Linked DNA regions of Homo sapiens. The protein of the gene in region 2 interacts with the protein of the main gene of each other region in a biochemical or structural test. Each region holds a gene or a part of one and is shown on either strand. Other genes may lie near its edges.

Region 1 (3,500 bases), on a different chromosome or scaffold from region 2:
GAAATCAAGCTTTGTATTAAAAAGCAAATTAAGAAGTCACATGTCAGCATTTTGTTTGTTTGTTTTGAGATGGAGTCTCGCTCTGGTGCTATCTCAGCTCACTGCAAGCTCCGTCTCCTGGGTTCATACCATTCTCCTGCCTCAGCCTCCCAAGTAGCTGAGACTACAGGCGCCCGCCACCATGCCCAGCTAATTTTTTGTATTTTTAGTAGAGACGGGGTTTCACCGTGTTAGCCAGGATGGTCCCAATCTCCTGACCTCGTGATCCGCCTGCCTCGGCCTCCCAAAGTGCTGGGATTACAGGCGTGAGCCACCGTGCCCGGCCACATGTCAGCATTTCTGAGGAGGTCTAACATGACTTCTCAGCTTTTGGTTGGAGCTCATTTTATTTCTAAACTTTTTTTTGGAAACTTTCATGTGCTGCTGTTGGGATGGGGAGACACTCTGATGAGAGCCAGGAGAACTGTGTCTGTTGCAGATTTTGCATGGCCTTGGCACATCAGCAACTCTTTCATGTCTCAGTTTCCCTAATGCAGAGTGGCTGTTTTCTGTTCCATTGTGTGACATGACTAATGACTCCTGATCAACCTGTTATTGAGGGGAATCATGCATCATAAAAGGCCTCTCAAATCTGAGCTTCTAAAATTCTAAAGCTTATAGCCAAGCAAGGGAGTTGCTAGAAAAGATGTTCTGCTTTTTATTAGAAGCCCAACTTGTTTCTCTCAATGCTGGCCCTGAATTGCAGAGAAAAATAAGTAAGTGTACATTATTGGATTGCACATGTTTTTTCTCTGCTACTGGAAACTTAGTATGTCCTCTTTTGGCCTCAGCACTGACCCAGGTGGAAATCGTTAGGTCATTTACTGCTAAGCAGCCAGATGAACTCTCCCTGCAGGTGGCTGACGTCGTCCTCATCTATCAACGTGTCAGCGATGGTGAGTGGGAGCGTTCTTATGGGACACTCGTGGTCCAGGATGCAGAGTGCTATAGACCCGAGGAGTGTCATTTTGTCATCATTGCCCATATTCCAAATCTTGACATGTTAATGTTTGAGATCACATATATGTACTGTCTTCTCATCTCTAAGGCTAAACCATGACGTTTTCTTTTTTCCCCAGTCCCTCAGTGACCCAGTTCTTATCTCTAAATATTCGTCCTTTCAAAAATAGCATTCTTCCTGCTATCCTTTACCCAAAGCATCTCCTTTCCCAGCTCAGCCCAGGTTCAAATACTCTCAGCCTTCTCACTTCAGGGCCTCTGCTCACGTTCTTTCCCTGCCATGTCATTCATTCCCCCTCGAAAGCTTTCCCTGTCCCACTTTCTCTTCTCACCGTAGCACTTAGCCTGGGGAGGGATGCTGCCTCTCAGCTTTTTCATATCCTTGGAGCCTGGCACACTCCAAATACTTGTTGTTTGGTGTGGACTCTGTTCTTTTTCACAGGCTGGTATGAGGGGGAACGACTACGAGATGGAGAAAGAGGCTGGTTTCCTATGGAATGTGCCAAGGAGATAACATGTCAAGCTACAATTGATAAGAATGTGGAGAGAATGGGACGCTTGCTAGGACTGGAGACCAACGTGTAGTCTCTCAGATGGTCTTTTGTTACTGCAAGATTTGCACGACACTTACCGGGCTGGTTGGTTCTGGGCTAGTTTTATTGTTAATTTTGTCACAGCCTATTTAATTAAAAGAACGAAAACACTTGCCTTTAAGCTTGCCAGGTTGTTCTGCTCTCTCATGAGAAGAGCTTGGATACAGTGAGTTTGCACAGCTCAGTTTTTACCTAACCACACACTTGCAGACCTCCTGAGGTACACAGAATAGCTGAGCAGTTCACTTCAGGGATCAGGTCATCTCTGCTCCTCCTAGTTTCACCATGTTCTGGCAATAAAAAACACATATTATATCCTGGTTTTCTCTATCCTTGCATTACTAAGGTGACTGTCTCTCTTTATACATCCTTGTATGGTTCTCCCAGTATTAGCAAGATTGTATATCTGTAAAGAATGTCCAGTTTTGTAAATATTTCCCTGCCTTTTTTTTTCTTTTTTTACATCTGATTTTAATGCTTCGTTAACTTCAAAAGGAACTGGTAGAGTTCAGAAGGTGAGCTGTTGTTTTTCTAAACCTCTTCCCAGGAAGGGGACATTGACACTTGAATTTTTGTCACCTTTTTCCTCATTAGAAGGAAAGTAGAAAGCCTTACTTTAGGATTTTTAAAAAAAAATCCATCTCACCCCATATTGTTCTTAAATAAGTATAGACTAATTAACCTAAGCTACCTTTAACAACGTAGAATTTAGATGGGTTCATATATGTGAGAAAAACCTGAATATAGGACAGGGGTCCTACTTTTTTCCCCACCTCTGTCGCCCAGGCTAGAGTATAGTGGTGTGATCTTGGCCCACTGCAACCTCTGCTTCCTAGGTTCAAGTGATTCTCCTGCCTCAGCCTCCCAAGTAGCTGGGATTGTAAGAGTATGCCACCACGCCCAGCTACTTTTTGTATTTTTAGTAGAGACAGGGTTTCATCATGTTGGCCAGGATGGTCTCTTAACTCCTGCCCTCAAGTGATCCACCAGAGAGGAGATCCTCGGCCTCCCCAAGTGCTGGGATTATAGGCATGAGCCACCGTGCCCAGCCTACTTTCTAATTAATTAAAAAAAAAAAAAAAAAAAAAAAAAAACCTTCCCAAATGAGCTGATAAAAAACTGACGTGAGGCTGCTTTGCCTTCAATAATACCTAGTTTTCAGCTGTTCCAACTCGTTTCCAAATAGAAATTAGCTGGAACACACTACAGTAATCTCAAGGAAGGGAAAATTAGGCCTTAAAAGATACCAAGAAGTCAGCATGGTACCCAATTGAAACCTTTTGACCTTAGTGGGAATTCATTCTATTTGCACTAAAAGCCTTAACTTGCTGTATTCAGAGTCCCTCTTAACTGTGAGTTTCTATAGAACTTTACTTTTTCCACTAGTGCACAGAGAGAGAAAGGTTATCTTAATAGTCGGTTTCATGGAGATGAAGGATGGGAGATTAAGAGGGGGGAAATGATTTTTACTGGCAGCTATATTCCCTCTCTGTTCTATTTGCTTTAACAAAGGGATAAAACCTGGCAAAGTGTACATTATTGGAGGACTCAAATCTGTATGTGACATGTCCCAACTACTGTCCGCTAACTAGTTATCCAAATTGTAAAGCTACAGAAGCCCAGTTGAGGGGTAAGTGTGCCTGGCTCACACAGCCTGCACCCTGTCACCTCGGCAATGAGCCAGTGTGGGGCACTGGGGACTTCTAACCCTTGGATTGCTCTTTTTGACCTGTGCATACCTTCTAATTGTAAAATATATTTCAGACCGTGAGTACCTTGAGATCTGAGCAACTGTGTTAATGAAGTAATAGCAATGGTCCACAGTGAAAGATGTGTTGGGGTTTGCAAAACAAGCATTCCGTCACCTCTTTAATAATGTCACAGACTTTTTAAAAGAGAGGCTATCAA
Region 2 (3,850 bases):
GCAGCCCAGGCCTGTCTGTGGAAAGACCCAGAAACAACCCTAAAGGAAAACTGGGTCAAAACCAACACTGTCTAACAAAATGCCCTGTAAACCTACTGACAAGCCTGGTGATTCCCAGACCTCAACCTTAGCCCAAGGGGGAGTTCCTGGCACCAGGCATCCTGCTGGAGCTTCACCCACATACCTCATGCCATTCCTCCCAGCTCCCTGGGAGAGTGGGTGTCACACAGGTATGGCAGCTAAGGCTCAGAGAGGTAAGACCAGATGGCAAGCCAGAAGGACCCGAGGCTTTCTCCCTACACCTGCCTCCTACCCCCATCTCTCCCAACCAGGGCTCAGACTGTGGGCAAGCACCCCACACACACGCCCTTCCAGTGCCCCAGTGCAGGGGCACAGCTGGACCATACCGGATGACATTGTTGCAGTGACCGCAGAGTGGAGTCCGGCTGCTGGCTGGGAATCGCTCAGCCCTCTGGACGGTCCCCCTGGCAAGTGGTGGCACCTGAGGACCCGCTGGGGTGTAGGCTGGGCCTCCCCGGGGCAGGGTCTGCTTGCTGATGGAGGTGGTGCTCTTGCCCGGGGCAAACTTCTGGGAGAAGCTATCATCTGTCACCCAGGGTGGACGGCTGGCAGGCTCCGCAGGGCCCCCGCTGTAGGCCACCGAGGGTGCAGGGTTATAGTTGGGGGCAGGTGAGGGGGTATAGGCTGGTGCTGGGGATGGAGTGTAGGTGGGGACAGGTGAGGGGGTGTAGGCAGGGGCAGGGGAGGGGGTGTAGGCAGGGGCAGGGGAGGGGGTGTAGGGAGTGGGACTGTAATTGGCCCCTGGGGACGGGCTGTAGGTAGATGCAGGCACTGCAAAAGCCAAAAAAAACCCAAAGAAAGGTGTGTCAGGAATTCATTCTTCCCAGTTCCCCTCACTCCTAGCCAGAGAAATGCAAAAGGTGACTTTAACATTAGAGCAGTACAATTTCAGTTTTTTTGGGAGACTTGTTCCTGAACTTCTTGATGGCCCAGATTTGAATTCTCAGCAGGGTGTTCACAGAGCTAGGGAGCAAGCACAGCAGAACCCTCGACAGGGCTGGAAAAGGGACATGGCTATAAATATTTGCAGCTGTGCAGGGTGGGGCTCCGCCAGGCCTTGACTGCCCAAGGCCTGCATAAGACGCAGAGTGGGGGTGGGGGTACCTGGGCGGGGAGAGGTGGGAGTGGGTCACCTCGCCTTTGACTGCAAGATGCTTTCAGTTGCACTCTGACCAGTGATTTGACATCTGAAATACCTCCCTTGGCATAAGTTTGCTGAACCTGGACCTAGGTCAGCCCTCAGGACAAAACAGGTGACCTGGTAGCTGGGTTTTCAGGTTCAGGTTTCAGGTTTAGCTACAATTACTTTCTTGAAAAACAGCTTGGCTTGATTTGTATTGGGGGGCAATTCCGTCTTGGTTTGATTAGGGTGGGGGATCTTGAAGGAGTCATTCAGAGGGTGCTGGGCAGAGACTCTAGGGTGACACAGCCTAGAAGTAGCTGCTCACTTGGCCCGTGGCTGCCTTGGGGGACCCCTGTACTCCCACATCGCTTTGGTGGAAGCTGAGAGTGTGTCTGAGTGACTGTCTAAAGATTGCCCAGGCAGTCAGAGCACAGGGAAGAGAATGCACCACCTCACTTCTATCACCCCCTCCTCCAGCTCCCTGAGAGCAGAAAAACGTTTTGGGCTCACAGCACAGAAAAAGCATTGCCACTGCTTACCCACAGCCCTCTCCCGCCTGGGCCCTCAACACCTAGCCAGGGCAGACCCAGCTGCACCCTGCAGGCAAGGTCCAGCTGGCTTCCTCTTCCAGTGAGTGAGGTTCCAGAAGCCTCACCACATTTCAGTCTGCTCCTCAGCAAAGAGGCCTCATTCCCCCAACCCTAGGAAGCATGTCAGCACAGCCTCCCTCCCCATTCCTGAGCTCAGTATGGGCAGGATGGACTGCATTGAGGCAGTCCCTGCACCCACACCCCGCCTCTGCCCCCCACCCCATACTCCAGCCTCAACCTGGAGAGGAAGGTTTTCCTTAGGGCCTAAGACCCTGGCCCCATCTCCAGTCTCTCTTTCCCACCTGGTTCCCCTGGACCGCCTGGGGCAGCCTGTGGCTCCCACTCTGCACCTTCCACTCCCAGGTGACCCACCCTTCAGAGCTGGGTGAGCTGGAAATCCCTGTGCTGGGGGTGAGTAGGGACCAGGTAGATAGGATCCATCCATGTTGTTGAAGGAAGAAGAGATAAAACCCTCCACAGCCCTGCCCTGGAGCCATCCTGCCAGTGAGGCCTTCAAAAGATAATACCGGTTGGGCATGGTGGCTCACGCCTGTAATCCCAGCACTTTGGGAGGCTGAGGTGGGCAGATCATGAGGTCAGGAGATCGAGACCATCCTGGCTAATGTGGTGAAACCCCATCTCTACTAAAAAAATACAAAAAATTAGCTGGGTGTGGTGGCGGGTGCCTGTAGTCCCAGCTACTCAGGAGGCTGAGGCAGGAGAATGGCGTGAACCCAGGAGGCGGAGCTTGCAGTGACCCGAGATCGTACCACTGCACTCCAGCCTGGGCAACAGAGCAAGACTCCATCTCAAAAAAAAAAAAAAAAAAAAGATAATACCTTCTCCATAAGGAATCTTCCTCCCCTTTAGGGGTAACGAGGCACATAGCATCTGTCATCTGAATCGGTCTTCACATTATTCCCTCTTTACACTTGAGGTCACTGAGGCTCAGACAGAGCTAGTAAGTGGGAATACATCTCCAAATCCATTCATTCTATCATCCCAAGCTGCCTCTGTAAAGAATATGAGTCCAATTTCTAGAAAATCTCAGTGCAACATGTCAGGGAGGAGTCATTTTCAACATGAAGGAGACCCCCTGCTGTGGAGTCTTGATAGCATAGCCAAGAGCCCTGGCTGCAGGATCCAGCTCTACTACCTCCTGGTTTTGTGTCCTTGGGCAAGTTCCTTAACCTCTCTGGGCCTCAATTTCTTCATCTAAAACTGGCAATACTGATTCTTAGTATCTCACAAGGTTATTATGAGGATTAAGGGAAGGTAAGAAATATAAAGAGCGTAGCCTAGTACCTGGCATAGTGTGTCACTAAATGTGAGTGAGGATGGCAAGGATGGGGGCAACCTGGGTGTCAGGGTCAGATGTACTGTCAGCCTGTCTCATGGCCTGCTGCTCACCTAGGGAAGCCCAGCCCAGTTAGACTGGTAGCGCCTAGGGTTGGGGGAGAGGAGGGAAGGGAAATGGAACATCCTGAAGTCAGATAACCTGAGACTGAGGTCTATTCAGTGGTGGTGGAATGCCTGACACCCTGCCTGCCCCACAGGGCATGCTGGGGACCTGCTGGGGTGACATAGTGAATGGATTTTGTAAATGTGTACAGCCCAAATTTGAGGTATTGTCACCCTCCCTAACAACTTTGCAGAGAATATCAAAATGCTGGGGGAAGAAGTGATTCCAGGAACACCACCAGGGACAGAGAGCAGGGAGAGGTGATCTAGCACAACTTCAGAGCAGCTTCATCCCTCTGTTATATATAAGGGGGTTCTGTGCAACATTTTCTTTCCTTTCTTTGTGAAGTGCAATTCTCTGCTAAAAAAGATTAAGATTGGCTGGGCGCGGTGGCTCACGCCTGTAATCCCAGCACTTTGGAAGACTGAGGCCGGTGGATCACTTGAGGTTAGGAGTTCGAGATCAGCCTGGCCAACATGGTGAAACCCCGTCTCTACTAAAACTTCTAGTAGCCGGGCATGGTGGTGGGCGCCTTGTAAACCCAGCTACTCGGGAGGCTAAGGCAGGAGAATCTCTTGAACCCGGGAGGTGGAG

Evidence for each region.
Region 1: the proteins of LDB3 (region 2) and ARHGEF26 interact in a test that uses a peptide from one of them, tested with the Homo sapiens proteins (one large-scale study listed by IntAct).

What each region holds. Positions count from the first base shown.
Region 1 is NC_000003.12:154,253,890-154,257,389, forward strand, and holds part of ARHGEF26 (rho guanine nucleotide exchange factor 26), read left to right. Parts: exon of another isoform or gene 1-84; intron 85-830; coding exon 831-935; intron 936-1,441; coding exon 1,442-1,584; 3' UTR 1,585-3,500. UniProt on the Homo sapiens protein: Activates RhoG GTPase by promoting the exchange of GDP by GTP. Required for the formation of membrane ruffles during macropinocytosis. Required for the formation of cup-like structures during trans-endothelial migration of leukocytes.
Region 2 is NC_000010.11:86,713,329-86,717,178, reverse strand, and holds part of LDB3 (LIM domain-binding protein 3), read right to left. Parts: intron 853-3,850; coding exon 408-852; intron 1-407. UniProt on the Homo sapiens protein: May function as an adapter in striated muscle to couple protein kinase C-mediated signaling via its LIM domains to the cytoskeleton.